Linked DNA regions of Homo sapiens. The protein of the gene in region 4 interacts with the protein of the main gene of each other region in a pairwise test. Each region holds a gene or a part of one and is shown on either strand. Other genes may lie near its edges.

What was found.
Region 1: the proteins of KRTAP1-3 (region 4) and AGA interact in binary tests that used the Homo sapiens proteins (3 or more experiments, as listed by UniProt).
Region 2: the proteins of KRTAP1-3 (region 4) and TFAP2D interact in binary tests that used the Homo sapiens proteins (3 or more experiments, as listed by UniProt).
Region 3: the proteins of KRTAP1-3 (region 4) and SUSD6 interact in binary tests that used the Homo sapiens proteins (3 or more experiments, as listed by UniProt).

What each region holds. Positions count from the first base shown.
Region 1 is NC_000004.12:177,439,268-177,447,183, forward strand, and holds the start of AGA (N(4)-(beta-N-acetylglucosaminyl)-L-asparaginase isoform 1 preproprotein), read right to left. Parts: upstream 3,171-7,916; 5' UTR 3,109-3,170; coding exon 2,982-3,108; intron 1,160-2,981; coding exon 1,006-1,159; intron 422-1,005; coding exon 309-421; intron 1-308. UniProt on the Homo sapiens protein: Cleaves the GlcNAc-Asn bond which joins oligosaccharides to the peptide of asparagine-linked glycoproteins.
Region 2 is NC_000006.12:50,723,105-50,730,726, reverse strand, and holds part of TFAP2D (transcription factor AP-2-delta), read right to left. Parts: intron 1,872-7,622; coding exon 1,706-1,871; intron 1,534-1,705; coding exon 1,415-1,533; intron 1-1,414.
Region 3 is NC_000014.9:69,606,486-69,615,091, reverse strand, and holds the start of SUSD6 (sushi domain-containing protein 6 precursor), read right to left. Parts: upstream 3,497-8,606; 5' UTR 3,264-3,496; intron 1-3,263. UniProt on the Homo sapiens protein: May play a role in growth-suppressive activity and cell death. May be involved in the production of chemokine molecules in umbilical vein endothelial cells (HUVECs) cultured in THP1 monocyte LPS-induced medium. Plays a role in preventing tumor onset.
Region 4 is NC_000017.11:41,032,762-41,039,256, reverse strand, and holds KRTAP1-3 (keratin-associated protein 1-3), read left to right. Parts: upstream 1-4,382; 5' UTR 4,383-4,435; coding exon 4,436-4,939; 3' UTR 4,940-5,373; downstream 5,374-6,495. UniProt on the Homo sapiens protein: In the hair cortex, hair keratin intermediate filaments are embedded in an interfilamentous matrix, consisting of hair keratin-associated proteins (KRTAP), which are essential for the formation of a rigid and resistant hair shaft through their extensive disulfide bond cross-linking with abundant cysteine residues of hair keratins.

The DNA.
Region 1 (7,916 bases), on a different chromosome or scaffold from region 4:
CTACTTGGAAGGCTGAGGTAGGAGAATCACTTGAACCCAGGAGGCAGAGGTTGTCGGGAGCTGAGATCGCGCCATTGCACTCCAGCCTGGGTGACAAGAGCGAAACTCCGTCTCAAAACTTCCATTGCCTTCTTCTTAGAGATGAAGAAGTAAAGAGATTTAAAAGTTACTTATCCAGTTCAATAGATGTTAAGTAAAACAGCTGGAATTTGAACTTAGATCTGGTTTTATCCATGATTTTGTACTATTTTTCAGTGAAAACTATAGTCAAAAGACTAGAAAAAATTTCAGTGTAGTTAAAAAAATACCTGACTCTCCTACTAAAAGTGTGTGTGTTGTATGTTCCAGTACTTTCCGTGCCACACCAATAGCATTTTTAATTCGTCTGAGATCTCCTACTGCTCCTACATCCATAGTAGTGCTGCAAGAAAATAGAATGCAGTTAGGAATTAAGGAGTTTTCAGAGGTTCATAGATTAAAAACATTGCTTTTCTCCAATCAATAGTGTTTTGCGGTTAAACTCCACCATCTTAACACAGAAGTGACAGCACATCCACGAAGTTCATATAGATTCCCACAATCAGACAAAATTAAGGAAAAAAAATAGAAAATCAACTTGCCATGTACCACAACAGCACTAAAATTCTCAGTTTCTCCAAGCTAATTTTAAATATGGCTTTTGAAAGGGGCCTGAAGGCTTCAGGTCAGGCAAACCACAGCATTTGTGGACAGCAGATAAATGATTGTTTATAAGGTCAGAGACATAGTTTTTTAGCTTGGCATTCTCCCAGTTCTAAGGGACTACCTATCTCTCCATGTGATATTTCTATTACTCTGATTTTTTTTTTTCAGTTGAGAGGGAAACTGTGTTTAGAAAGGTCAAGTATAATAAGCTAGGGGTTTTGATCTGTGTCAAAACTCATGCATTCTTTCATCTTGCTCTCAGAAGACCACAACTCTAAATGTAACTCAACATAATAAATAGGACCTGAACGGTGTTCTTACCCATCCATGATCATGGCATCTAGTGTGGTTTCTCCAAGTTCATCAGGACTTCCTCCAAAGCCTACAGAGCCGTCACACTGCTCTCTCTCACACATGGCACAGCCGCTCTCCACTGCATCCAGGGCAGAGCCTCCAGATGCTAATGCCCTCCACGCTGTTAATCAAATCCCAATAATGCTTGTTTATATATATATTTTTTTTTCAATGCCAAATGCAACAAACCAACTCCAATTTAACAACTTTTTCACATTTACTGAGTTAAGCTGATTTTTTAACACATTAGTTTATCAAGTGTTACAAAGGAGTCAGTGAAGAGTCAAAATTATTTAACTAGTTATCAGAAGAACTCAAAAAACTGGCTATTGGTGCAAGCTGAAGGTTTTTTTTTTTTTCACTTACTAATATCTATCTCTTCTGTGTGCGAGAAACGAAATCAGTATCCCCTCCTTTATTTTAAAAGGTACAATCGAAACCACTAAAAGGCAGTTAAATAAAAAATCCACTAAACCGCAGCCTTCTTCACACATTTCTTCTGCATCATTAGATTAAAATATGCATAATTGATATGTGTATTGAGGTAACACCTATCCCAGGAAGTCTTAATAATACTGAACAGCAAACAATTACAACGTGGACTTCATATGGATTAGTTCATTGAGTCTTCATAACAGCTTCTGTGGTAGGTACTGTACAATCACGACCCTCATTTTAAAGAAAAGTAAACAGAGCCACAGGTCAGGCAGTTAGTTTAAGGTCACACAGCTGGTAAGTAGCAGAGCCAGGATCCCATACATTTGGGGGTGTGGGGGGAAGGGTCTTTGATGGACAATTTCTTTTCTGGTAACAACAGAATTCCTTGAAGAGTGGGTGCTCTGGTTGGTAAACACTACAGCACCTACAGGCTTGAAAGTGTATTTACGCAAGTTCCCTCTTTCAATACAGGCAACTTAAACACAGAACTGTCCCCCGCCCAGGCTGATGCAATTTCTTTTCGTCTCATTATGGCTGGGAATATCTTTCTCACAGCCTGCTTCTTCATTTTCTCTGAATCGTATGCACTGCCACCAAATTCTGGAGCCAATTCTGCCCTAGAAAGTTAATACGTTAGCAACCTCAGATGGAGGAGGAGGGGTCTGAAAATGACTCTTCTGGTCATTAAGCAAATGAAAGAAACAAGCATAGTACAATGCGAAAATGCCAAGATAATGGTACGTAAAGGCTATTAACAAGGTGTAGAAGGCAGGAACCTAACTCATTCTGGACACGAGGGCAGTTAAGTCAGGGAACGCTTCCTGGAAGAGGTGATACCTTAGCTTAGTGGTTCTCAACCCTGTCTGCAAATCGAAATCACCTAGGGAGCTTTTTAAAGAAAAACAGTGGCCCTGATTCCAGCAGTTAGATCACAGTCACAGGAGGTGGGCCCCGGCAGGATGATTTTTGAGAAGCTCCCCAGATAGTGTGAATGTACAGCAAAGGTTGGAACCTTGAATTCTAAGTGGCAGGTAAAGTATGACAACACGTGGCAAAAAAAGTAAATGGGAAAAGAGTAGGCTATGGCTGGGACACTATTAGTCGTCTACAAAATTGCAAAGAAGTGAAGGATTAGAAACGAGAGGTGGAGACGTACACAGCCCGTGAAAAGACTGTCAGGCAGAAAAGCGTAGCTGCTACTTGATTAAAGCACAAAGGCCATAACTATGGTCAGCAGCAGGGTGGAAAATACATTGCGCTGGGGGCTGCATGAAGGGAGGACCTAAAATGCAACAGCGGTAGGTGGGGAGGATGCAGTAAAGGCCACTTGCAAGAGACTGAGCGGCGCTGGAGACTCGGGAAGACCTAGAGGGCGGGACCGCGAGGCCCGGCCCAGCCCGGCGCTCTTCCGTCCGCCCTGCCGGGTGACTGCAGCGGGGCGGGCTAGTCATCCCCACCCGCAAGCTCTCGCGGCGCAGCCGCCCGCCCAGGCCGCCAACCCGCACCTGCTTCGGTTGCATTCTTAAAGGGCCAAGTGTTGACGACCAGGGGCAGAGGGCTGGAGCAGCGCACTAGGGCCTGGCAGAGCAGAAACGGCACGAGAAGCACAGGCAAGTTCGACTTCCGCGCCATCCCTGACCACCGAAGAGACCAGCGCGAGAAAAGTCCCGGCAGCCAGCGATCGCCGAACAATTAATCCCCAGTGCCCCGCCCGCCTGGCGCCCACGCCCGCTCTCTCGGGGGTTCGCTCAGGCGTCCCTCAACTCTCGCGAGACGAGGCGTCCCTGGGCCCGCGGGAGAGTTGTGTCACGGGGCACTGAGCTGTTCCCTGCGCTAAGGTGCTTCTTCCTAAGTGCTGTTCAGATTTTTAAAATAGCCAGACAAGTTGCTGCTTTTCCTGTGGTTAAAATAGATTTAGCTTGATATTGGGAATTTAATACAAAATTATTCAACTCTGGGTTGCAGGGCCCCAGGAACTTTAGCCGATTGCTGTGTACTATGGATTTGGTTCTTTTACTGTCTTTTTAATTTAAAGTTGAAGTTGAAAAGTTTGTCAAACTCAGTATATTCTTGGGGATCCCAGGCCTCGGAGGTCTGCAATAGTTATGAGTGTAGGTGAAGCGTGTTTGCTTAGGACCGGATTGATTTTAGATTTTTTTTCCATTCATAGCGTCCGTCATTTTCGCACCACAGCTTTTTGTAGCACTTCCTCTCATTATAAATCCCTGAGCTGGAAGAAAAACAGAAACGGCCTATGTACCCTCTACCTAGCACACTGAAGTGCAGCTTCCTGCACCTCCAGGGCAAGACGGCTACCTCCATTCCTTTTTAAATGTATTTTTACCTTCCTGCCTGGCACTATTAAGTGCTAAATAAATGAATAAGAGGAGGAATGGGGATTTTACGTGCTTGGTGGAGGCTGCTCAGTTTTGTTGCTGGGCAGACGTGCGAACATGAACTAATAATCCCTTTGGGTGTCTGGAATGCCTGCCCAGGTTGCCAAGGCAAGACACATAATCACATAATTTTTAAAAGCATCTATAAATCTATACAAACTTTAAAAATATGAACTAGGCTGGGCACGATGGCTCACGCCTGTAATCCCAACACTTTGGGATGCTGAGGTGGGTGGATCACGAGGTCAGGAGTTCGAGACCAGCCTGGCCAACATAGTGAAACCCGTCTCTACTAAAAATACAAAAATTAGCCGGGCGTGGTGGTGCATGCCTGTAGTCCCAACTACTTGGGAGGCTGAGGCAGAATTGCTTGAAGCCGGGAGGTGGAGATTGTGGTGAGCCGAGATCGCACCACTTCACTCCAGCCTGGACAACAGAGTGAGATTCTGTCTCAAAAATAAATAAATAAATAAATGTAAAAATATAAACTAGGTAGGAGTTGTGAGACTTACAAAACCTTCAAGGCTCTTATTGATTGCTAGGAAATTAAATACATAATTTAAAGAACATAAGATAGCCCAGAAGTATCATTATCCCGTTGGGGAAGTGTTAATTAAAAGATATAATAAAGACAAATTTTCTAAGTTCCTTTCATGGGGTTTGGAAGAGGAACAAGTCATCTGTGCTGGAGTAATCATAACCCAATGGCAGGTGAAACTGGAAACTTGGGTGAAACAGGGTAAGAAAGCCAGAAAAACATACATTGTCCTCTGAGTAAATTTTCCTTAGCTCCTGGGCTGAGTATTTTTATGCAGCCTTAAGGAATTAGGACATGCCTTTAGCAAAAATTGTAAAATACAATACATGGAAAATTGGTCTTAGTACCCCACTGATCTCTCTAGCCTCTTCCTGTTTTTTAAGGTATTTGTGTTTCTTCTGGTGGAAAGAGCCTGATCTGTTACCTCCTACTATGTCTATTTCTCCAAATTCTTTCTTCTTAAATAAAAATTCCTGTCAGAGAAACAGCTAAATTACACTATAGTGGGAATGGCTGATAGAAGGTCTCAATATATCAACTTTTCCATGGATATTTGTATGTATGTATGTATGTATGTATTTATTTTTTGAGATGGAGTCTTGCTCTATCGCCCAGGCTGGAGTTCACTGGTGTAATCTCAGCTCACTGCAACCTCCACCTCCTGCATTCAAGCGATTCTCTTGCCCCAGCCTCCTGAGTAGCTGGGATTGCTACTGCCTACTACCATGCCCGGCTAATTTTTGTATTTTAAGTAGAGACAGGTTTTGCCATTTTGGCCAGGTTGGTCTTGAACTCCTGACACAGGTGATCCACCCACCGCCCCCACCCCCCCGACCTCCCAAAATGCTGGGATTACAGGTGTGAGCCACCGTGCCCAGCCGGATATTTGTATTTAAATAACTAATATGCAATCCCTATAGAATCTACCCGATTCAGTGTCTTCTTAGTGGCTACTAAAATACCTACTGGATCCACTGTCCAGTTTGCCTAAATTGTAGCTGTTTCTTAAGTTAAATTCGTCTGGATATTTGGTTCCTTCTGGAGTAGTTTTCCTTTGACTAACACTTGAAGAATAATTTTCATTTTAGTTCTAGAAGTAACCTTCTGTTACTCTCACTTAGGTGCTCTTTTGGGCCTAAATATAATTAGATCCTTCGCCGTTGTTTTGAGGTAAATCTAAACGAAAAGGAACACCTGTTAACAGGTAGTGATGCCGCAGGAAAGTGCTGGGAAGGGAATGCTGGGAAGGGAAGGGCGTGGTCCCTTTAAATGATAAGGAAGGGGGGCGGGAAGTGCTGGGTAGAGGAGGGCGTGGTCCCCAGCTAGGGCTTCATCCCTGGGCCTGGGCCTACCTAGGTGAAGACAGGCATTTTTGTTTTCCTGCCCGGATGTTGCATTTCCCAAGACCACCCTGGCCTGCCATGCCCTCATCCTGTGCCTTTAAAAACCCCCGAGACCCTGGCAGGCAGACGCACAAGCAGCTGGACATTGAGAGGAGCATATAGGCAGAGAATACAGGGGCTGCTGGATGTCGAAAGGAACGCACCAGCATAGGAGCACACCGGCATGCTGGCAGGCCATTGACCAGCGGAAGAATGCAGAGTTTGTCGCGGGAGGTCAGAGAAGAGTCAGGCCGCCATACCTGACTCCAGGAGAAAACCGTCTCCCTTCTGGTTCCCCCGTCTGCCGAGAGCTACTTCCACTCAATAAAACTTTCCACTCATTCTTCAAGCCCACGTGTGATCCAATTCTTCCCGTACACCAAGGTAAGAACCCGGGATACAGAAAGCCCTCTGTCTTTGCGATAAGGCAGGGGTCTAATTGAGCTAACACAAGCCGCCTACAGACGGTTAAACTAAAAGAGCACCCTGTAACACATGCCCACTGGGGCTTCAGCTGTAAACATTCACACCTAGACACTGCTGTGGGGTCAGAGCCTCACAATCTGCCCGTCTGTATGCCCCTATAGAGGTTTGAGCAGCAGGACACTGAAGAAGCGAGCCACACCCCCATCACACGCCCTGCAAGGGCGACAAGGGAACTTTTCCTGTTTCAGTAGTAGACCGTAAAATAAATGATCCTCAGTTTTTCCAGCATCCTCTCCAATTTTTCATTCTTTTAAATCATTATACACAGGGCAGAGATATTTAGTGTTACTGATAAATCAAAGGAACTATTTGTAAAAGTATTTTTATTTAAATTTAGAATGCATTACACAATTTTGTTTGGCAAAATGTTTCTGTTCCTAAGTAGAGCTTACTTATAACTAGCAATACTTCAGGAGGATTTTCCAGACTTAGATTTTAAAACTTAGGGTGTGGCCAGGCCTAGTGGCTCATGTCCATAATCCTGGCACTTTGGGAGGCTGAGGTGGGTGGATGGCTTGAGCCCAAGAGTTTGAGACCAGCCTGGGCAACATAGCGAGATTCCTGTCTCTATTAAAAAAAAAATTAAAAAAAGGTGACTGTGTATCAGCTGTGGTTAACTCATGTAAGCTTCCTAAGCCATGCTTTTCTCATCTATAAAATGGAGATAATAATAGTATTCTTTCTTATTTTACAAAGCTTTGTGAATGAGGTAGGAGATGTGGGAGAATGGTGTAATACCAGGCAAATTAAATAAAATTCTCTTATTCTAATTTGCCATTCCCAAGTACCTATAATTGATGTCAAGGAGGCAGTCCAGAAACATACAAGGCAGTAAAAAGAAATCAATTTGATCAATTTGAGACACAGAAATTTCCACAGGAAGAATAAAGAGTTGGCCCAATACCTATAATGCATTTGAAAGTAATCACTTAGAATTTCCTTGAATATATTAAATGAGAATTAAAAATAATGTTTTTAGTTTACTTGGAGCTGCCTGAAATTTGGTTTGAATGCTTATAAAGATGGTGCATGGCAGGACTGTGAGATTTCTGGATGTCTTAAAAACAACACCCTTAAGTCTTAACAAGGGGAAAGCCTCAAATGGAATCTTAAGTGATGTTGCAAATAGAGCCTTTGTGTGTTTGTGTTTGTGTATGTGTGTGTGTTGGAGGTGGGTGGAGGAGTTTCAGACCGCTGCAGGCTCTCTTATTTCCTCTAAACTTCATGGCTTTCAATTTATCAGTCTCAGAAGGATGAAGAGTTGAGTCCCTCCTGATAGCATTTGAAGCTGTGGTTCCACAGAGGATTTAATGCTGTAGTTGCAGGGAGTCTAGGTATTTCAATTCTGAGGCTTAAAAAACTAAGCCATCCCCTCCGGCTTTTGCACTGATGCTGTGAAATCCATTTGAGAAACATGTCCATGTTTTGCTACTTGTTCAAAGCTGTAAGCCTGACTTGGCATTGAAATGATAATTTCTTTTTCAAAACTCCCCACTGAACTATTACCTAGGTTATCTAAATATAGGCTATTTACTTGATTGGCATTTGCTCCTGTCAGTTTCATAAACTGTAAGTAATGATTTTTGCTGATGTTAGAGCATTGTGGTACTGTGTTTCTAATTTAAATCAATGTCTACA
Region 2 (7,622 bases), on a different chromosome or scaffold from region 4:
TAAGAAATCTTTTCAATTGACTCTTCTGTGGAGTTGGGTTTGAGAACTACTCGAGTCCTACCACCCATATGATTCTTGAATCCCCTCTATTATCCTGAGCAACTGTTTTGTTATATTTTTAAACAATGATAACTATAATTTTAACCCACATTTTTACTTAAAATGTGCAGAAATCTGTCTCCCTTTGGAATCAATCCATTAGTCATTTTTTTTTCTACTTTGCTCTTCCCCAATGTGGGTGTATGATAGGTTAAAGCCATCTACCATATGCCAGCCTTTAGTACCAGCACACGCAGGCAAACACAACACAAGACCTAGAACATGGTAATAGTAACACAGTAAATGTCAGTTGTCAGTGTTATTGTTGTGGTTGTTATTATTGTGACTACTATCAGGGAACACAGCAAAGATGGCTGTTAAGAGCAAAATCACCAAAGCAATTCTGCCAAGACAAATGTCAAGAACACACTACTTCTCAGTGTTGTACAATAAATGCTACGTATTGAAAATCTGAAAAAAAGTATAGATGTTTGGTTTTGTGCTTCATTCACTACTTCCTACAGTGCCATATAGACAAATAATGGATGTATGAAGTAACACAGGTGTGTTCAAGGTGAGGCTTGGCAAAAGGCCCCTGCCTTTTATATTTTAAACAATAGCATTCCACATGATGAAAAAACTTTCCTTTGACATTCAAAAAGTTCCCCACAATGTTAAAAAAAAAGCCTTTCAATAATAACTCTCCTTAAAAGAAGACTGAATAAGAATATGTAAAGTTTAGACCTTAATAGGAGAAAAAAAGGAAAGAGGTAAGTTGGAAATAAAACAACTTCTGGGAATATATTCATTTCCATTTCTCTTTCTATACTACTGGTTAACCTTAACCTCTCTCTGACTGAGCTGAGCTTATCCACCCATACAGCCTTGAAAGTTCACCATGTCTTTAGAGAGGTCTACTAGGATTAATACAATATGCTTTCAGGCTCAGTATCATGCCTAGACCCCTGTGAACTCTTCATAAAGGGTTATTTCTCCTGTAGATCATGTTGTACTGAATTACAATGGGTTAAGTTAGATTCACTTAAACTCTGAAATAAACAATAATGCAAATGACAAGAGCGCTGCCAATTTCATGTTGCTGTTATTTAGAGGCTATTTGGAGAAGTACCCAAAACCTCCATTGTCTTATTTCCTATTACTACCAAGATTAGTAAATTAAATGATATTTTATGAATTATCTAAATCTTAAGTCTAATTTAATCATCATTGTCAAGATAATTTAGGAAATTTACCTTAACTGTTAACTGACTTGCTTAATGGTACAGACAAAAATAAAACAGCATAATTTAAGAAACCTGAGTTTCAAAGACACGCCAACCTTCCAGCATTATTTTGCTAAACTGAAAAGTCATACCTTCAACCAAGGAAGTAAGGAGGGTGACATTAGCTGCTTTCCGTCTTCCTGCTGGTAAGTTTAAGCCAAGCCTATCCAATTTCTCTCTCAGGCAGCGGCCCCCATTCTTTGATTTTGCTCTGTACAAAAACAAACAAAAACTAGGTTTTGAAATTTCACATTCTGATGAAAATTATGAGACGACTTGACCACATGGGGAATACACTATCAGATGGAAGACATCATGACTAAGGGTTGAGGGTATGGTATCAGTTAGCAGAAATTCTGTGCCAGAATATAGCTTTGTCTTACCTTCTCAAAATGCCTCCCAAGAGTGAAGCATTGAGGCACTCAGGTGGGGAGAGGCGCCTCTTTACCTCAGCAATGGTCACCTTGTATTTGGAAGTAGAACTAAGAAGGGACAAACGGCCAGGGACAGAGCAAAATAAGTCTGTGGGGTTGACCACACAGGTGCCACCTTGGGAGAAAAAAAGTATATAACATGTTAGTGACAGTGAAAGAAGCTAACTGCATGAGAGGCAGTTAACATCAAAAGACTATTCTGGATTTGGGAATACATGCTAACAGTTGTACTTATATATCCCCCAGATCATCGCAGGGAGCTGCTCTAAATGTTCTTTCAAATACTACTCAGGGTCATGTCTTTTCAATGTTTGTGAAAATGTCTGTGAGTGTACAATTGTTAGAAACATTGGCATCCTACGGAGTGTAGACTGACTCACCAGTGCTAATTTTGGCAACATCCACACTAAGAAACACTTCAATTAATCAAAAACCTGAATTCCAATAGTTAAGCTCACAAAGACTAGGTATTACTTATACATGGTTGTATGTTTATGTACACACACAGATGCACAATGTACACAATGGATGGAAATGTTTTATCCACAATTACTGTCTTTTCCAAAGTGTTTGAAAACTGCCATCTTTTCCTCATCCATCTGCCAATTAAAGGCAAAACAGTCACTCAATCCCAGGCACTGCTAAAAACCAGTTACTCATTGAAAGAAATTTCTAATCCATACAGGTGATGATAGGTTAAATACCTCTATTGTATGCCAGCCCTCAATATCAGCACAAGACCCAGAACATAGTAATCATAATACTTATTAAATGTTAGCTGACAATAATATTGTTTTTATAATTGTCATTGTAAATGTAAATTGTAAATGTCATTGTCATTATTACTATTAGGGAGCAAAACAAAGATAATTGTCAGTAGCAAAATCACCAAGGCAATATTGCCATGCTGGGGTTCCTGGAACAGAAGCTTTCTGTCTCCAAGCTCCAGAAAGCCCCCTGAGCTTCAATCTCCTCCAGGAACAACAGTGTATGTTCCCTATCCTCAGGCAGTCGACAATAACTGAAGAGGACTTGACGATCCAAAGGTGATCATCTCTGAGAAGCATTTCCCACTGTCCAATTCCTCCCCCACTGCAAGACTTTGGAGCCAATGTCCACCCTGCTAGCATGGTGACTATACAGTTCCGGGATCCAAAACCGCCTAATGCATTGAGCAATCTAAAGGCAGAGTTTTTAAGGGTCCGAGGCAAATTCAAAGTTGGCTTTTTTGATCATGTATTTTGTTTCTTCAGCTAGGGTCAATCTTACAACCCATATCCAGAAAAGGGACAAGTTCTATGAGAGAAAAGAGGTTTTAAAAAAGTAGATGGGAGAAGAAAAATGGGCAGAAGAGTGTTGTCTAAAATATTTTTACTTTGTAACTTGTTAGAAGCATAAAATCTCAGACCCACCTCCAAACTTTTTGAGTCAGAATCTGCATTTTAATGAGAGCCTCAGATGATTCACATGGTCATTAAAGTTTGAGAAGCACTGAACTAGGACTTACCACTTGCCTCCCAGGTATCTCCTACCCTTAACTAGCACATATGGAATATTATACCGGTGGTAGAAATTCTGGCATTCAGATTCTGGTATTTTCCCTGGGCTGGGTTGCAAAAGAACCTGGGAGGACATTTAAAAAGGCAAAGGGATCCCAAACCTGAGGAGACAGAAAAAGTTAACCTTGCCCCACTCTTAAAACATTTCTACCCCTGTACCTTCTGGAATTCTTCCTGACTGTCTTTTGGTCACCCAAGTTTTCCTTGCAAGTGCTGGAGACCAAGATCTTTCTCCCTAAGCATTCTAAAGTCCCTCCAAAAAACAACAAACCAACAAAAACCAGAAGAGTAATCAGTGGGAATGTCAGGGTAGCCAACCATCTTCAGGCTAGAAGTTAGGTCCTGTGCACTCTGCCAAAACCTCCATGACAGTGTCTGAAAACCTGTTCGCAGTTAGAAATCTGAGAGTTCAAAATCTCAATCGTCAAATTAAAATCCATTTCTTGACATCAAACTTGTAGCCAATACAATGGCAAACCATGTAAACACCTGCTTTAGGAGCTAAAAACAAATTCTCCTGTACTTCCCCCTCTTCATATTCTCACCGAGTTTTAAGCCAAAATACAACAATAAAAATGTTCCCCCAGATTCCTGGACCTAAGACTACCATTTCACTTTTGTTATCGGTTTCACTCTGTACTTAGAGATGCAAAATGCATTTCAAAAAAAAATCTTAAATGACTTCTTAAAATTTTAGATGAACAGGAAAGCAAGGTAGGTATTAATGAATCTGTGGTGTAGAGTCATACTGTGAGAATTTTGATCCTGATTATTTTAGGAATTAGATAAGTCTACCCCAAATATATTAAACAAAGAGAAATCAATGTCTTTATGCAAAATTCACATAGCCCTCTTCTAAAAATGGATCTCTACTCACAGTCACTATAAATCATAAGCAAATTGATATTCTGACATAAACTTTCCTCTCTTGCATACTAGCCAGTATACAAATGAGGACACAAGGAATCTCACACAGTTGCCAGTTAGCTTCAAGTTTATGATAAGTGAGAGAACAGAGCGTTTGAGTATATGTATGAATTATTTTCCTGGATGCTAAGGGTAGGGAATACCACAATTTTAGAACTTTCTTATCTTTACTAATCTTCAGTGGATTAGAAACCTAATTTAGGGAGATGTAGATGATTATCATTTTTAAAAGAAGTTGTTAGATCAGGCTCTCCCCAACTGGAAGACTTTTGGCAAAGTGAACCTTATGTGTTGAAAGCCAGCTGCTCCCAGGGAAGCCACTGAGTCTGCTATCTACCCACGTGCTAACTCCCTGGGCCCAGAGTCTCCCTCTCCTACATCTAGGTTGGGCTTCTGGCTTATGCTCAAGTAGACATTTATTAGGTAAGTTACACAAGCTGCATATTAAGAGTATGCTTTATGCACACACAAATTGCCTGAAGGATTTATTTTGTATTCAGGATTAGCCATCAACTCTAGAGTCTTTTATTTTTTATGTCACAGCATCTTTAAAGGGAATTTCTGTTGCTTTGATACCTGGCATTGCTGCAACCTTGGGGAACTCTCTAGTCCTGGCTAAAGATTTGGCAACTTGTAGAGTTTACAGCAACTTGGGGAACCTGATATCTTTCTTCTTGGTGATTTATTCTTTAGAGAGGTGGAAAAAAGTAGTAGGTCAATATCACCAGGGTTTTGCCTTTAGATTGAAGGTGCTGAGGGAGTGATACTTCTTTAAGATAATCCAGACTACAGATGGTAATGATGAGATCTCAAAGAAGAATGTTATGAAACGTTGGCCCACACCAAGCCATTTACAGTAGTCATCCCCAGTGTTACTACTTGAACTTCCTCATGGTGCTTGTGTTGCATGTCAGCTCATATTGAAATTATGTGATAATCATTCTAGATTCAGCATCACAATTAAGAATGTCTTTGATTCTATAGCCAGTGTATTCATGCAGAACTTCTCCAGAGTTCATCCCTTTTCCATATACAGTTCACAGAAGCAATACTTTCACAAAGTTCACTATTTTTAAATTTGGAATTTGGAGATAGGGCTCTCTATTTTCAGTGATGCTGCAAATTCTGATGGGTAGCTATGGTAACAGTGGTAAGAAATCAGAAACTATCTGCTCAAGGTCCTTTGCCTAGGACATGGCTTTCATTAAAAGGGATAACTTTGCCATAGCTACAGGAAGAAGTCAGCCAGAGACTTCTGGCTCAGGTGTGACAAAACTAGCACAAAATACATGGATGCAGATCCTCCAGCTGCCATATCTTGTTAGATCTTATTCGGTTTGAAGAAGCATGGGGTGGCTTTACCTTGGCTGCCTTGGCATAACAGGGGACATCTGGCCAGTGTCTGCAGACAGTGTGGGGCAGTGGAAAGAGTACCGGGCTACAAGTAAGAATTTGACCAACTATCGACTCACGCAACTTTGGGCGAATGACTCTGGGTCTAGTCTGTCCATCTAAACAATGAAGATGCTCACACTTGCTCTACTTATCTCCCCACCTTGTAAGGAGGTGCAATGGGAAATGGATGCACGCACGCTCGGCAACCTGATTATAGGCCACCCAACCCCGCCACTTTTTTTTAAAAAAACAACTACCCCGTTGCAGGGTGTGAACTGCGGGGTAGGACAAGACAGGTCCCCCCGCCGACACACACACACACACACCCCGCCACCGTCTGTGCTGCAACTGGATGGGAAAGACAAGCGCCGGAGCCTGGGTGAGCTTTTTCTCTTCTCATCCCAGGCTACTGGGGCAGAGGAAACAGCGGCGGCTGTCTCCAAGGAGCCGCGGGTCCCTGGAGCCTCTAAATCTGCCTCTGAGCCATACTCACGGCCTCCGCGCCTCCCCCGTCTCAGAACGCACCCAGCTGTGGCGAGAGGTCCCGCGCGCTCTCCAGGTGCGATCAATACTTCCTAGCGGGCTTCCGGGCGCTGGGCCGGTGCGCGCATCCTCTCCAAAGCCACAGCGCCGCCCCACTCGTCGTAGCGTCGGTGTTGACATAATTAGACCAAATCTTGAGAGCAAAATAAATGATCTGTTCGCCTTACAGCCAAACAGATGTTTACAATTCAAATGAAAGAAATACAAACGGCAGGGATTTTTCTTCTCCCCTTCTTCATCTCCAGTGATCGCTCTTTTTTTTCTGACACATTAAAAATGTGTAAGCGATTACAAGAGTTTCCTGTCCCTGTTTGTTCTGCGGTTGCATTTCTGCGAGGTGCGCCTGTGAGTTGGGTGGGGAGAATTATTCTCTGCTGCTTCCTCTCTAGCCTCTCACCCTTCCTAACCCTCCTCCCCCATGTTACCCCTCCCCCCATGTTACCTCTCCCCCCACGGCAGCAGATATTAATTGTAATCAAACAGCAAAGGATGCGGACTTAATTGGAATCAAGTAGGCCTTTGATGATGTGTAAGGAGCGAATTGTTTGGGGGGAGGGTATAACATTACAGGTATAGCTGGATTACCAGGGCCGAATGAGCTTCTCCTTTTGTAGATTCCAGGCAGAACAAAAGAGAGGTGTGCGTGAAGAGACTCGCTGGTTTAATGTGGCGGTAGGTGTGTAATGGTGTATATTAGGGTGTGTGTATGGCGGGGGTTGGGGGGAGATTAATCCCCATTCCCCAGTGCAAAAAGTGTTTTGGTTTCTGCTGATTTTCAAAGCAGTTAAAGAAATTAGAGAAAAGGCTGTAGGCTGTGGGAAAGCTACCTCTTTCCCTCTACAACCCCCAACGCCCACAAAGATTTCCAACAAATCATGCTTCTGGATGCTTTGGTACAAGAGTTTTAGATTTCATATAAAGGAGATTGAATTTCAAACCTGCAGAATCTGCACTGGGGACTAAGGAGGCAGGCGAGGCTTGAGGTGTATCTCTGGCTCTATCTTCACCCATAATGGATGAACCATAGAGATGAGTTTTGGCTAGCGAGAGTAGTGATTCCAGGTAATCCATCTGGAATCCGAAGAGTACTGACAAAGGAAGAAGAGCAAGGCTTCCCACGCTCCTCCAATTGTACTCCTTCAGGAGCTGCTGAAAGAATCCACGGCTTTCTCCATCCCGGATTCCAAGGCTCTGGGCCTTCCTGAAACCCAGAGAAGCAGAGGAAATCGCTTCCTCCTGCCAAGCAGCCTGCTGCCGGCCTTGAGGCCGGCTAAAGGGAAAAGCGATCAGGTCCTTCTACTCTGTTATGGGCAGACTGAGCAATTGAAGCTAAGGTTCCATTTCAAGGAATTTTTTTTTTAAAGAAATTAAATCAGATCTGACAATGTTTGTACCGCGGCGTAAATGCCTTTGCCTTGGCGTGCCAGTCACCTCTAAGCGCT
Region 3 (8,606 bases), on a different chromosome or scaffold from region 4:
GCTCCCTCCTCTATTGGCTCCTTCTGATCTTTCTCCCACTGCTTGAGCGAACACCCTCTAACAAGACTTCCATAGTGTCCAGACAGAAAGAAGAGGGAAAATAAATCCTGCTTGTCAGCTTCAACTAGGAGATAGCATGTCATTTCAGGAGCTTAATAACTCACTTCATGTATGGCAATTACACAACCTGGGCCCAATGGATCTGCTGACATTCGGGCCTGCAAGTGTGAATTGTCTCTTAATAAATGGGGAACTAGAGGGGAAAGACAACCACGTGTGCCCTCTGGCCTTCCCTCTCTGCTGGCAAGTGGTTCTGCTTCATTCTCCACAGTTCACTTGTTTGGTACTGAAATGAGGAAGAGTATGTACCTCACTATTTTTTTTTAAAGATGCTGTATTTCTCCCAGCCTACAAATGATACCAGTAGTAACTTGGTTGTCAGAAGAGCTAAGGATATGAAAAAAGGGCAGAAGAAAATATTTGAAGCAAAAGCCAAGTTTTTATGTGGGAAATGGACAAGTGTGGAGGGAGTGAAACAATGCTTAGTAGCAATAAACTTGAAAGAAGTTCTAACTTTAAAGAAACCAGGTGAATTATTACCTTTTGGAAGGGGTGTGTGTGTGCATGTAGAGGGAAGGCTGCTGCAGGAATTGCTGCCCCACCAAAAGAGCAAAGGAGGACATCCCCTACTGAGAGATGCAACATTACATAAGAACACAAGTTCAGGCCGGGCACGGTGGCTCACGCCCGTAATCCCAACACTTTGGGAGGCCAAGACGGGCAGATCACCTGAGGTCAGGCGTTCGAGACCAGCCTAGCCAACATGGTAAAACCAAGTCTCTACTAAAAATACAAAAATTAGCCAGGCGTGATGACACGCACCTGTAGTCCCAGCTGCTCAGGAGGCTGAGGCAGAGAATCGTTTGAACCTGGGAGGTGAAGGTTGCAGTGAGCCGAGATCGTGCCACTGCACTCCAGCCCGGGTGACAGAGCGAGACTCCATCTCAAAAAAAATAAAAAATAAAAAAGAACACAAGTTCAATCACCACACCTCAGAGACTGACCAGGAAAACAGACAAAGTGCTGAGGTCTCTTTATCTGCCAGCCTGTATCTGTAACACCTCATTCTACCCTTCTTTCTCTTCTATCTCACCAAATTCTGGGCTTTCAGAAGGCAGGCTTCAGCGAAAGAAGTCAAACTTGCCCATTTGACAGTGGGTTTGCTCTCAGGGTTTAAACACTGAGCACCCTGGCACCTGTCTCTATCTAGGTGTAAGTGAGGATTTGTTTCATATGCCATTTCTACTACAGTATCCAAAAAATTACTCTGCAGACAGGAAGTCCTATCTATCAGGACTCATACCAATACTGTCCTCTGTTTAACTCGCTGGGCAGAAGTTCCTTCAGCAGCAAATGGCCAGCAATGAAAGCTAACAACATAAACCAAAACAAATGGACTTAAAGGCTGTGAGTCCATGAGAGCTGGATTCTGACTTATTCAATGCAGTACCTGCAATACCTAGCACAGTGCCTGGCATACATTCGGTATCACATAACTACTTGGGAGTACTGAATGAAAGAATGAACAAATGAATCTTATGCAAACATACCGTAAGTGTGTACCCAGGAGAAAGAGTTTAGAATGCTCATGATCTGAGAAACAGCCTGAAGCAGCAGTGCTTTCAGAAGGTTTTAGAAAGACTCCAGGTTCAATTTTATCAAAAGGTAAACAAACCAGAAACTAGCAGTATAATCTAGTAGTTCAGACTGTGGGCTCCACCATGAGATACCTATGTGACATGGGCGAGTTATTTAACTTGTTTGGTTTGGGTCTCAACTAGAAGAATGGGGATAATAATATCTACATCAAAAGTCTGTTATTAAATGAGTTCAAAAAAGTAAAGCCCTTAGCACAAAGGTTGGTACTCAGTAAGTCCTCAAGAACCTTTCCATATTATTGCTGCTTAAATACCTTCTTTCCTGAGATGTAGACATACCTCCCCCAACTCCAGGAAAATTTTAATTTCTGGTTGAATATGCTTCTAGCTAAAAACACAAAACCCAGAGAACTCAGAAGTCAGTGCCAAGCACATGTCTCTACTAGCCTCCACTAGATGGTGACAGTTTGGGTGTGGAATTCCCAAAACAGAAAAGGTGTGTGTGCGTAACTCCTATGTATGTTTTTACACCAGAGGAACGAAAACAGCAAGAAATGAATTAACTACTGTGAAGGAAAGACATACTTCCCATCTCTGTAGATCAAAAAAGGGAGTAAATCCCTAGGCCTAATTGAACTGAGTAATCTTACTGCACCTCTGGAAGAGCACACAGGAGCCCAGTTAGCGAGAGCAACAAAGCCCAGCATGTCGCCTGCCACTGAAAGAAAATTCTGTGGGAACAACAGCTTTAGGCCTCCTTGCCCAGACGCCAACTTCCCTTTAACCAGCCCAAGACTTTATTTTGACGCCTCTTTGCTCCTGGGTCTTGCTGTCCCCATAACCACCTCCCCCTCCTGCTCCTAAATTCGTCCAGGGTAACTTTTCTCCACTTCAGCAGCTCCCCAGCCACGACTCCCATGAGGGAGAGTCAGATCCACACTCATAGCTGGGGTCTCAAAACCAAGCGAAAAAAGGAAAGTCTGTATGTACGTGCCTACTTTTTGAAAGAAAATAGCTGGTTTCGGGGAGTTTAGCCTGGTTAATAAGAGAAGTTTTTGAGATTAAAGAGCAGCCGAGGCGCGGGGGCTCCCGAATGCCGCGGTGCGCACAGGCGGGCTCTGAGATTTCCTCAGGAAATCCACCTTCTCTAAGCCAGCCCTGCCCCAGCGCAAGCCCCGCAGCTTTGCTGGGCTGAGGGCAGTAATGACAGTGGCACAGAGGGCCTCTGCCTACCTCCTCTGCACCCATCGGCACGGCGTCTGGCTCTTCCGGTGCTGCCCGGGCAGCGACGCGGGACGGCGCGCCCCGGACCGCGGGTCACCAAGTTCCCGGCCGCAAACCAGCCGCCGGTCCCCCCGGCCGCGCAGCCCCCACTGCTGGCCGGCTGGCCGCGCCACGCCAGCGCGGGGCTCCCAGCGGCGCGGCTCGCGGCCGGGTGACAGCGGGCCGGCGCAGAGAAGCGCGGGGAGCCGCCGAAGCCGGCCCGGGCTCCGGCCAGCGTCACTCCTGGGCGGTGCGCGCTGGTCCCGCGCCCCTGACAGCCGGCCGAGCGCGTCGATGGCACAATGCCGGCCCCGCCGCCCCCGGGCCGCGGTGACAACTCACCCGGGAGCCGGCGGAGACCTCCGGGATGGGGGCGCTCACAGCTTCCACGCCGCCGCTTGCGCGCGCCCGCAGTCTTCTCGGGTCTAGGCGAGGCCCCGCGTGCCCTTGTCTAGCTCGCTCTGGCCGGCGCTGTGGGCAGAGGAAGCGGGCGGGAGGGAGGGAGGAGGTGGGGCGGTCGCCGGCTTCGGAGAATAGAACGCGGCGGTAGCGACGGCTGCAGCGCCCGCGTCACTGACCCAGCTGTACCGCGCGGGCGGGGGAGGCCCCGCGGAGGGGAGGGGGCGGGGAAGGGGCGGGAAAGGGGCAGGGCCAGGCGCGCACGCAACGGCGCCGGCGTCGCGCCGCCGCGACCGCCCCGCCGGGAGGCCCTGCACGCACGCGCCGCCGGCCGGGCCAGGTACCCAAGGGAGAAGCGACGCGGTTGGGGAGGTGGGGGGTCCTTAAAGAGACAGTCCCTCTGCGCTGGAGTGGATGGGGCGGTGGCACCGACTCAGCTGGACTATGCGGCGTTTCCAGTGCGCTCTCCAGTTCGTTTACTATTATTATTATTTGCATGATTGAATTACTATTATTTGCAAAGAATTGTACTGCCCTGAGGTTTACAAGGCTTTTGGCGCATGTTGCCTTGTTAGCTCTTGAATTGCTCGTCTGACCTAGCTCGTCTGAAGCAGGTTATTATCTCCCTGTTAAGCAGTAATCCGAACTGTGGTTCCTAGCCTGCCAACATTAAAGCTGCCCGGGGGGTGGGTGGGGGTGAAAATGCAGATTCGGGGCCCCGAATGACCTCCAGCCATTGTGATTCAGTGGGGTCGGACTTGGGAATCTGTATTTTCACTAGCATTCTGAAGTGAGTGATCCTTCAGCATACTAAAAGCACACAAGGGATCTCAAGGTTGAGAAAACCGCAGTTCAGAGCCAGGACTGGCAGAGCCCGGGCTAGAAGCCTGCCACATTCCTAACTGTATTTCCCCTCTTGAGCCTTGCCTTCTGGGGCTATTTTCTAGCACATACTGAGTGAGCAGTTTGTGCACTGTATGGCTACATCGTTTATTGGTGATCTCTCATGCAGTGTGTCCTCGGTTTATGTGTTTACAGGGCCCGTGGCGCCTTGATGGGGAGGACTCTGGCTTTTTATCTTTGTACCCCAGGGCCTTGCACCGTGTCGGTCTCAGAGGTCCTCCATAAGTGTTAAGGAACTCCTACTTGTAAATCAGTGGTAGAGTCCACATCTGGACCTACAGACTTGTGTCTTTGCTGCAGCTTGGGTCAGGCAGGCCTCTTCTCCCAGATGCTCTTGGACAAAAGGATACACCTTCTCAGGGCCTCTCACCAGGCCTAGTTCTAGTAGGCTTTCGGGAAAAGCACTGTGAATTAACAGGGCATGTCCTTGTGAAGTAGCTTGAACCAAATAAACAGGATGCTCCTCCCCATGCACACAGACCCATCCCCAAAAGAACCCTTCCCTTCTGGGCCCCACAGCAACCTGTGGCTCGTTGCTATAATGCCTTTTTCATAAGTCTATCCTTGTTCTGCCTTCTTTCTTCCTTGCCTTCTTGGGTCCAGACTCATTAGAGAAGATGGGCACCCCTCCCTTCCTGCTCATTTGGGGCCACACTGCCCAGACCACTAGAAGATTGAAAAGCACAATTCAGAACTACCTGGGTCTGCCTCAGAGCACAACCAAATCAGTGTGGGCAGCAGGAACATGCCAGGCAGACCCAAGGCTCAGGGAGGGGACAAGGGGGAAGGAAGCAAGGGAAAGGGATGGAGGAAGAATTGGAGAAGATGAATGGAGGAAGGAGAAAAAGAAAGAAAGGAAAGGGAAGAAAGCAGGCATGGATGGTTCAGGTCAGATCAACTGCCAAAGTAACTGAGCCCCTGGCTGTGCACTGAAGTCAGTTTGGCCATTAAGAGGCTCAGTAACTTCATACAAGAACTGCCACCTTATAAAATCCCTTGTGAGACCCTATGCAGATCTGTCCATCACTACCCAAAAATCCTCAGTCGGGCGCGGTAGCTCACGCCTGTAATCCCAGCACTTTGGGAGGCTAAGGCAGGCAGATCACGAAGTCAGGAGTTTGAGACCAGCCTGGACAACATGGCGAAACCCCTTCTCTACTAAAAATACAAAAATTAGCCAGGCGTGGTGGCACATGCCTGTAATCCTAGCTATTCAGGAGCCTGAGGCAGGAGAATTGCTTGAACTCAGGAAGCAGAGGTTGCAGTGAGCCGAGATCGTGCCATTGCATTCCAGCCTGGGTGACAGAGTGAGACTGTCTCAAAAAAAAAAAATCCTCTCCCAGACCTTCAGGGTCCACAGAATGAACTCAAAGTCATCAGCAAGGACTGTAGTATCCTGTGCTGTCCACAGTCCGGCCCAAATGCTCTCCATCCCTCCACACACCCCACTCCAGCCTCCCCATACCACCTGCTGGTCTCTAACAAGCCATTCCTGTCACAAACCAGGTGCCCATGCTGTTTCCTCAATCTTGAAGGCCTTCTCTACTTACCCTTCAGAATCTTCCCAAGGCTGCTGCTTCTACTTTTCTGTGGCACTTTGGTTGAGCCCCAAAGTGCCACAGAAAAGTATTAAATTAAAATTTTTAAACATTTTAAATATTTAATTATTTATTTATTTATTTTGACGGAGTCTTGCTCTGTCGCCCAGGCTGGAGTGCAGTGGCATGATCTGAGCTCACTGCAACCTCCGCCTCCCGGGTTCAGGGGATTCTCCTGCCTCAGTCTCCCGAGTAGCTGGGTTACAGCTGGGATTAGCTTCCATTTCCTTCTGCTTTGAATTGCCAGAATCAGGGTCAAGTCTCCTCCCTTTATAAATGTCAGCTCACCAGCCTTTCCTGTCTTCTCATCCCCTCCTATCTGAAGTTCCACTGGCCTCTTCAGTACAGCTGACGAAAAGCCCCTGTTACATTCTACGTATAGGCCTTGCTCTTCTCACCCGCAAAATGGAATGGTACTTCCTGGCCTGGGGTGAATATTATCTTTCTGCCATTGAAAAGATCTCACAAGATGAAGGTTAAGAATAATTTAGACTTAGACATTCTCAAGTGGGAGGGATCATAGATTTTTTTAAATAAAATTCTTTAAAATTTTTAAGATTTTTTTTTAATTTAACAGCTTTCTCACACCTGTAACCCCAGCATTTTGGGAAGCTGAGGCAGGCTGATCATTTGAGGCCAGAAGTTCAAGACCAGCCTGGCCAACATGGCAAAACCTCGTCTCTACTAAAAATATAAAAATTAGCCTGGCGTGGTGGTGCACGCCTGTAATCCCAGCTATGTGGGAGGCTAGTCACAAGAATTGCTTGAACCTGGGAGGCAGAGGCTGCAATGAGCTGAGATTGCGCCACTGCACTCCAGCCTGGGCGACAGAGTGAGACTGTGTCTTAAATAAATTAATTAATTAATTAACAGCTTTATTGAGATATTCACATACCAGCAATTCACAGTTTAAATTTGTATTTATTTTGTATAACTTTACAAATTGTACAAATTTGCACATGTACAATTGTACATTTAGAGTGAACAATTCAATGGTTTTTAGTATATTTACAGAGTCGTACAATATTTTAGAACATTTTCATGACCCTAAAAAAAACTCCCATACCCATCAGCAGTCACTACCATTTCCTCCCTCCCTACCACCTTCCCTGCCTCCCTCCCTAGGCAACCAACAATCTACTTTCTGTCTCTATAGATTTGCCTATTCTGAGCACTCTCTATAAATAGAATCATACAAATATGTGGCCTTTATAATTGATTTTTTGTTTCTTCCACCTAACAATCAATTTTAAACCAGAGCTAATTTTTTATTTTCACTTTTCAATTCAGACCCTGCCTTATTCTAAAAGGACTTAAGATGGCTCTTTGAGCTAATATTCCTGGGTCCTTCCAGATTTCCAGCATAAATCTTTTTTTTTTTTTTTTTTTTGACGGAGTCTTGCTCTGTCGCCCAGGCTGGAGTGCAGTGGCATGATCTGAGCTCACTGCAACCTCCGCCTCCCAGGTTCAGGGGATTCTCCTGTCTCAGTCTCCCGAGTAGCTGGGACTATAGGTGCGTACCCCCACACCCAGCTAATTTTTGTATTTTTAGTAGAGACAGGGTTTCACCACGTTAGCCAGGCTGGTCTCAAACTCCTGACCTCAGTGATCAGCCTGCTTCTGCCTCCCAAAGTGCTAGGATTACAGGCGTGAGTCACCACACCTGGCCAATTTCCAGCACAAATCTTAATATTCTGCTCTAAATCTAGGTGCTGGAATATGGCATGGGGGTTAGATTAGTCCCAGTTGGTGGTGAGTAGAATAGCCAGCCATCCCAGTTTGCCTGGGACTAAGGGGATTCCTGGCACATGGGACTTCCAGTGCCAAAATTAGGACAGTCCTGGGCCAATCAGGATGAGGTAGTCACTCCTATGATAAGAGTCAGGAGGCACAGTATTCCTTTCATCTCCCAGGAATATAACAAGGAGTGTGTGCCTTTACTGCTTGCAGGGCAGGACAGAGGAGTTTGGCTCTCTGAAAGTGAGAGAAAAGGTTCAGAATAAGTACATGGAATCTCAGTTGCTATGGTTATTACATACAATAGTAGTAATGACAGCTACTATTTACAAAGCACCTACTGTATGTCAGGTGCTTGGTAGGGACTTGATACGTGTAACCTCTAATTTTGGCAACAGTCCTCCAAGTTAATTATCATTAACACCATTTTACAAGCAAGGCTTAGAGAGATTTTTTTTTTTGACATATCAAAACCACATAAGTATGTATGTTGCAAAAGCAGAATTCATTCTTGTTTGTCTGTTCCAAAGGTCACACTTTCCCAAATAAACCATGTGCTTCCTCCCACCCCTAATAAAAATAGCAAATAAAGATTGAAATTGTCCTCATATATCTCTTGCTTTTTAAAAAAGTGCTTTTTTGCATACCAGCTAGTTTTTTACAACATCCCCATAAAACGAAGAGACATTATTGTCCCCAATTTTACCTATAAGGAAGTTGAGGCACTGAAAGGTTGCTAGCTTGTCTGATCTCATATAGAAATTAGCATGAGTTTCATGTTTTGATTCAAGATTCCTTGGGCAGCTTTCAAAGCCCTGTGAAGGTAAACCCATTTGACCCCAGAGGAGGTGGAAGGTGAGGCCACCCTCACCGCAGAATGTCAGAGTCCAAAATGGGTGGGCTGTACAGGGCTAGGCCAACAGGAGCTGAGAAGCAACTCCCACTCCAGAGGAGGAAGATCTAGGCTCAGGAGGTTATCTGAATTTGTGAGCCTGCACCATCACCAGGGGCAACCCTTCTTGCAGCTTGTCAGGAGCCTGTGAGAGCC
Region 4 (6,495 bases):
TGGAGTGGAAAACATGCAGCTGGTATCTGCTGCAGAATTTATTTCCTTGCTTCTTGATGGGGAGAAATCCCCACACATTAGCCACAGAAATCTTCTGTGTTGATTGTTGTTGAGTGAGAGAGTAGAAAGAACATTTGAGTGTGTTTTTTTTTCCTTCTACCCAATAGCATAAGATGTAAAAATAGCTTATGCTATTGGGTAGAAGAACAAAAAGCTAAATCAAGACTCCTGAGTTCTAGTCCCAACTTTGTAACTAGCTATCCATGAATCCTTGAGCAAGTCCCTTCACTTGCCTGGGTACCTATTTCTAATTTGGGAAATGAGAGAATTGAGTCATTACTGACAACATCCCTTCCAGGCATAAGAGGGTAGATAATTTCCTAAACAGGCTACACACTGACCAGTAATAGCTTCAGATGCCCAAAGAGGAAAAAATATACAGTGGTCAAATTATGTTGTATGCTTTATCACCTTTTTGCAAGTTTATAAAGCCACACTGGAATATTAAAGGGACTGAGATGGCCTGCAATAAATAAAGCTCTACAACCAGTGGCCGGGCTCAGTGGCTCACACCTGTCATCCTAGCACTTCCGGAGGCTGAGGCAGGTGGATCACCTGAGGTCACAAGTTCGAGACCAGCATGACAAACATGGCAAAACCCCGTGTCTACTAAAAATACAAAAATTAGCCAGGCGTCATGGCGGGCACCTGTGGTCTTACAGGCTGAAGCAGGAGAATCACTTGAATCCAGGAGGTGGAGGTTGCGGTGAAACAAGATCGCGCCACTACACTACAGCCTGGGTGACAGAGTGAGAGTCCATCTCAAAAAAAAAAAAAAAGAAAAAGAAAAGAAAAAAAAAACAACTCTATAACCATCACTCCCAAACTAACTTAGCCAGAAAACTCTCTATTTTTATGTTACCTGTTAACACCCTGTAACACAAATACTCCTCAAAATATACTTTGAAAAATGATGAAAGGGAGTATCAACTGATGTTTTTATAATACCTGTATAATCTTCTTATGTATTGTGAAGCAGAAAATAAATGTTCACTGCAAGGATGGATTTAAATACTGTCACTGTTCTTATTCTAATTTTCAGAGAGAGTTCTAGATGAAGCAAGCATTAAATAAAAGACGCATAGTGAGGCTTTCATTCCAAGGGATAAAATCTTTTGTCATTAAATCAAAGTGGTGAGCCAGTGCCTGGGGGTAGAGGGGTATGGGAAGTGATTGCTTAAAGGTCATGGGGGTGTTCTTCTGCGATGATGGAAAAGTTTTTGAAGCTAGAGAGAGATGATGTTGCCCAATATTATAAATATACTATATGTCACTCAATTATACACTTTAAAATGGTTAATTGTAGGTTATGTGAATTTAACCTCCATTTTAAAAAATCAAAAGAACAGGACCTCTGCTAGCACAACTTTAAAAGAATTAGGAAAAGGCACCACTTTGGAGAAGATACAGACAGAGGAGTGCACAGTTTGTTGAGCCTCCAGCTTGATGTAAGAAATAATATGCTCCTTCCTCTGAGTGGACAGAGCCACACATCAGGGCGCGACCTGTACATCTATACACAATGGCCCTACAATGTAGTCAACATTTTATTCCCCTCATTTAGAGCTCTGTTGTCTCTGAGAGGGTTTAGGTTGGATGTACCTTTTAATTAAAAGGACTTTGGCTCAGAAGCACCCCAAAAAATCCTGGTTGGCATTCAGGAGGGAAGAGATAGATCTTGTGACTTGGCTTAGGATAAAAGTTGGTAGTAAGAGGAGGTCCTTGAAGTTTATGTGTTATCTGGTCTAGATTACTAGGATGGAAGCCCAGAGCAGAAGCACAGAAGCCCTACATAGGAATGTTGTATTCATTTGACTGGTACATCAATCATGTTTTATTTCTCGAGAATCTAAGTAAGGCAGTCACAACCGAATTAGAGAACTAGTAAAACGGAGATGAAGAAATTGGGAGAATCCCCAGAACTTGTAACTAGAAAACCAGAACCATGATATCTTAAAGAAAAATAATTTCAAACATTAGTGTCTGTGTTAAACCAAAGCCACGTTCAGGAATAACAGACAAACACATTCTTTCTTCTTATGGTACTGGAATGGTCTACAGCCCATCACTTAAATGAAGTAATGAATGCCAGAGGGAATCAGCACAGTAATAAGAAATGTGGTATATACACACAACGGAATACTATTGAGTCTATAAAAAGCAGGAAATTCGGTCACATATTACAACATACCTAAACTTGAAGGATATAATGTAAAGTGAAATAAAATAAATTTCATTTTCTTAATTTACTTAGAGGAGGTAAGGGAATGTTCAGATTAGTCTTCGTTCTGTGGCACAGGAGTCAAATTCTCAAGTAAGTGTCATACCTTAAATTTTGCATTGAGGAAGATGTTGAAAATAGTGCCACAGTAGAAAAGCCCAGAAAGGGAGAACTGATATGCAACGCCACTGTCTCCAGTGCTCTTATCAATAATGTATTTCAGGTCCTCAGATATCTGAGCCTTTTGCAAAAGGAGATACATCTGTTTAGTATCAAAGATTCTGCTAAATTTAGATCTGAATTAAATAGCTCCCGAGATTGTTGTCATGACACACCCACGTATTTCAAGCATCCAACATAAAAAATATTAGCTAATCAAAGAATCTGTGATGTAGCTTTGCTTAAGAAGAAGCAAGGAATTCACAAAGAATCATATCTTTTAAACCAAATTTGATGTGGGATTTGAAAATATGTCTTAATTCTGACTCAGAAAGAGTTATGATGTAAACTCAAAGCTGTCATTTCTAGAGAAGCAGAACTACCACTTGGTGTTCTGGTTCAAAATCCAAGAGTAGCATCGTAACTTGCATTTCTCAGTAATGAACCCATACTCCATGGAGGCCTGGTCACCTTTTATTGCATCTAAACAAAACCTTTATATTCACCGTCATCAGCTGTCTCATTCAAATTATATAAACTTTCCAGTTCACTGGATTAGTCTCTAATATCTATAATAAACTGCATACAGCCGATCTAACACTCTGTAGTAAATCACATACTCCAGTATTAATATGTTAAAAACTATAATTTTATGCAGTTAAAAAATCTAAATCTATAGAATATCCTAAGATAAAAGATGAGACAAAGTCACAAGAAGGTTAACTTTTTTAGCACTTAAGATTTTCTTGAACTGTGCTTATTATGCTGTTAATAAATAAATAAAATCTCTAGGAATGGCTGTAGTAAACTGTGTTATTACTTACCCTAAGCTCTCCCTTCCTTCCTTTTACTCTCAAAAAAGTCCGTAAGAAAGGAAGCAAATTTTTACGGCTTGCTTTCACCATTGGAATTTCCTTAGAATGACTTTTTACATAAAAAAAGAAGAAAGGAAAGAAAGAAAGGAGAAAGAAGAAAAAGAAAGAAAGAAAGAAAGAAAGAAAGAAAGAAAGAAAGAAAGGAAGGAAGGAAGGAAGGAAGGAAGGAAGGAAGGAAGGAAAGAAAGAAAGAAAGGAAAGAAAGAAAGAAAGAGAAAGAAGGAAAGAAAGAAAGAAAGAAAGAAAGAAAGAAAGAAAGAAAGAAAGAAGAAAGGAGGGAAGGAAGGAAGGAAGGGAGAAAGACAGAGAGAAAGAGAGAAAGAATTGACTATAGTGTTTAAAGAGTTTAGTCTGGAATCAGAGGTTGTGGATTCAAATTTCAGATTCACTAGATACTAGTGTGAACTAGGGTAAGTTACTTCAACCTGTTGTGGCTCAGTTTTCTCACATGGTTGATGGGAGTGGCAGTGATACCTAGCCCATAGATTGCCGTGAAAATTCAGCAAATTGATACATGCGAAGTACTCAGAACTATTTAGGCACATAATCAGTGATGGGAAAATGTTATCAATAGCAATTAATGCAAATCTCCCAGGCCCAAGAAAGCATCCCTTTCTGGCCAGCTGAATATAGTCTTGCTTCACAGTCAAAGGGAAGATAAGAAAGTTAGAGAAGGAGCCACAGTTAAAATTGGAGGGAATTAAACTGTCATGTGAGACCCAATCACCCAGTTGTAAGGGTCAACACTGAGTAATATTGACAATCCTTAAAGGTGAGGCATCAGTCAATTATTCCTTGACCATGAGGAAATTTTAAGAAACATGAGGAGTTAGGGATCATATTCCTAATTAATGCCAATGACTTCTTGACCATGGTAAAGAAGCCTAATTGCAGACCAAATACAATCAACTTTCAAAGGCTCTCAGTAGGTTCAACAAATAATTCAGGGAGAGGCCAATTATCATTCAGAGACAAATTATCCAACACAAATAAGCAAGAGACTTCTGGAATTATGTAAACAGTAGCTGGCCCAGGCTTATAAAAGGCCCAATGTGGCAGCCATCACCAAAACTCAGAAACTCCTCCAAGCAACCCAGACTTCATACCAGCTCCCAACACCATGACCTGCTGCCAGACCAGCTTCTGTGGATATCCCAGCTGCTCCACCAGTGGGACATGCGGCTCCAGCTGCTGCCAGCCAAGCTGCTGTGAGACCAGCTGCTGCCAGCCAAGCTGCTGCCAGACCAGCTTCTGCGGATTTCCTAGCTTCTCAACTAGTGGGACCTGCAGCTCCAGTTGCTGCCAGCCAAGCTGCTGTGAGACCAGCTGCTGCCAGCCAAGCTGCTGCCAGACCAGCTCCTGCGGAACTGGCTGTGGCATTGGTGGTGGCATTGGCTATGGCCAGGAGGGCAGCAGTGGAGCTGTGAGCACCCGTATCAGGTGGTGCCGCCCAGACTGCCGTGTGGAGGGTACCTGCCTGCCCCCCTGCTGTGTGGTGAGCTGCACACCCCCAACCTGCTGCCAGCTGCACCACGCCGAGGCCTCCTGCTGCCGCCCATCCTACTGTGGACAGTCCTGCTGCCGCCCAGTCTGCTGCTGCTACTCCTGTGAGCCCACCTGCTAAAAGCCAGTTTGCTGATTTTCAACTTGAAATTTCCACTTTCAGTTCCATTCATGAACGAATTATTTCTTCAAGCACTTATGGACAACGAACAAATTCTTCAACCTTTCTTTGTCTTTCTTATGGGGGTTACCAAATATTTTGGCCTCAGAATTATCTGATTCCTTTCAATTCCAGAAAGACCTTACTCTTCTCTCTGAGGACGCCAAAATACAAATTTGACCCAAGAAATGAAAAAGCCGATTTACCTTGAAACTGAGCCTTTGCAAGCATTGAAGCCCACGCTCTGAGTCTCAGCGCCGACGAGACCATGGAAGAGCCATCTGTCCTTCTCAGGACACTCACTTCCTGTATCCCACCGTCCTGCAAATTGCACCCCCTATGAAAGAGGAATAATATACCAAGGTCTAATAAATTTTAACTATTGGTGCAACAAACATATCTTTTTTTTTTCATTGAGTGTACTCAGGATGTATATTTCATAGAATGTCATATGAAAAACTTTAATCTGCTTTTGATATCCCTTCTCTTCTAATACCACATTAGGAAATTTGTTATCCAGAGGTCCAGTGGAGGTTAATGACCATAAAAACATAGAGTAAGTGTAGTTATTTAGGGCCTCAGAAATGGCAAAGGCTCTGTTACCATAACTTAACCTTACACAGTGCTTTCACAACCAGGAAGTTACAGAAATCAAAATCTCTGGCTGGGTACGGTGGCTCACACCTGTAATCCCAGCATTTTGGGAGGCCAAGGTAGACAGATCACGAGGTCGGGAGTTTGAGATCAGCTTGGCCAACATGGTGAAACCCCATCTCTACTAAAAAAAATAAATTGCATTTCTATATACTAACCATGAAAAATCTGTAAGGAAAATTTTAAAAACAATTCCATCAAAAGAATAAAATACTTATGGCCGGGCATGGTGGCTCATGCCTGTAATCCCAGCACTTTGGTAAGCTGAGGTGGGCAGATCACCTGAGGTTAGGAGCTCAAGTCCAGCCTGGCCAATATAGTGAAACCCTGTCTCTACTAAAAATACAAAAATTAGCCAGGCATGTTCGTGGATGCCTGTGGTCCCAGCTACTGGGGAGGCTGAGGCATGAGAATTGCTTGAACCCAGGAGGTGGAGGTTACAGTGAGCCAAGATTGTGCCACTTCACTCCAGCCTGGGTGACAGAGTGAGACTCCATTTCAAATAATAATAATAATAATAAAATAAAGAATAAAATACTTAGGAACAAACTTAGCCTTGGAGGGGAAAGACTCGTACACCAGAAACTACAAAATGTTACTGAAAGAAATTAAAGAAGACACAAATAAATGAAAAGACATCCTGAGATCATGGATTATAGGATTTAATATTGTTAAGATGTCAATACTACCCAGAGAATCTACAGATTTAACGCAATCCCTATAAAAATCCCAATGATGTTTTTGCAGAAATTTTAAAAAAATCCATCCTAAAATACATATGAAATTAGAAGGGGTCCTATATAGCCAAAACAATCTTAAAAAAGAACAAAGTTGGTCTCACATTTTCCTGTTTCAAAATTTAC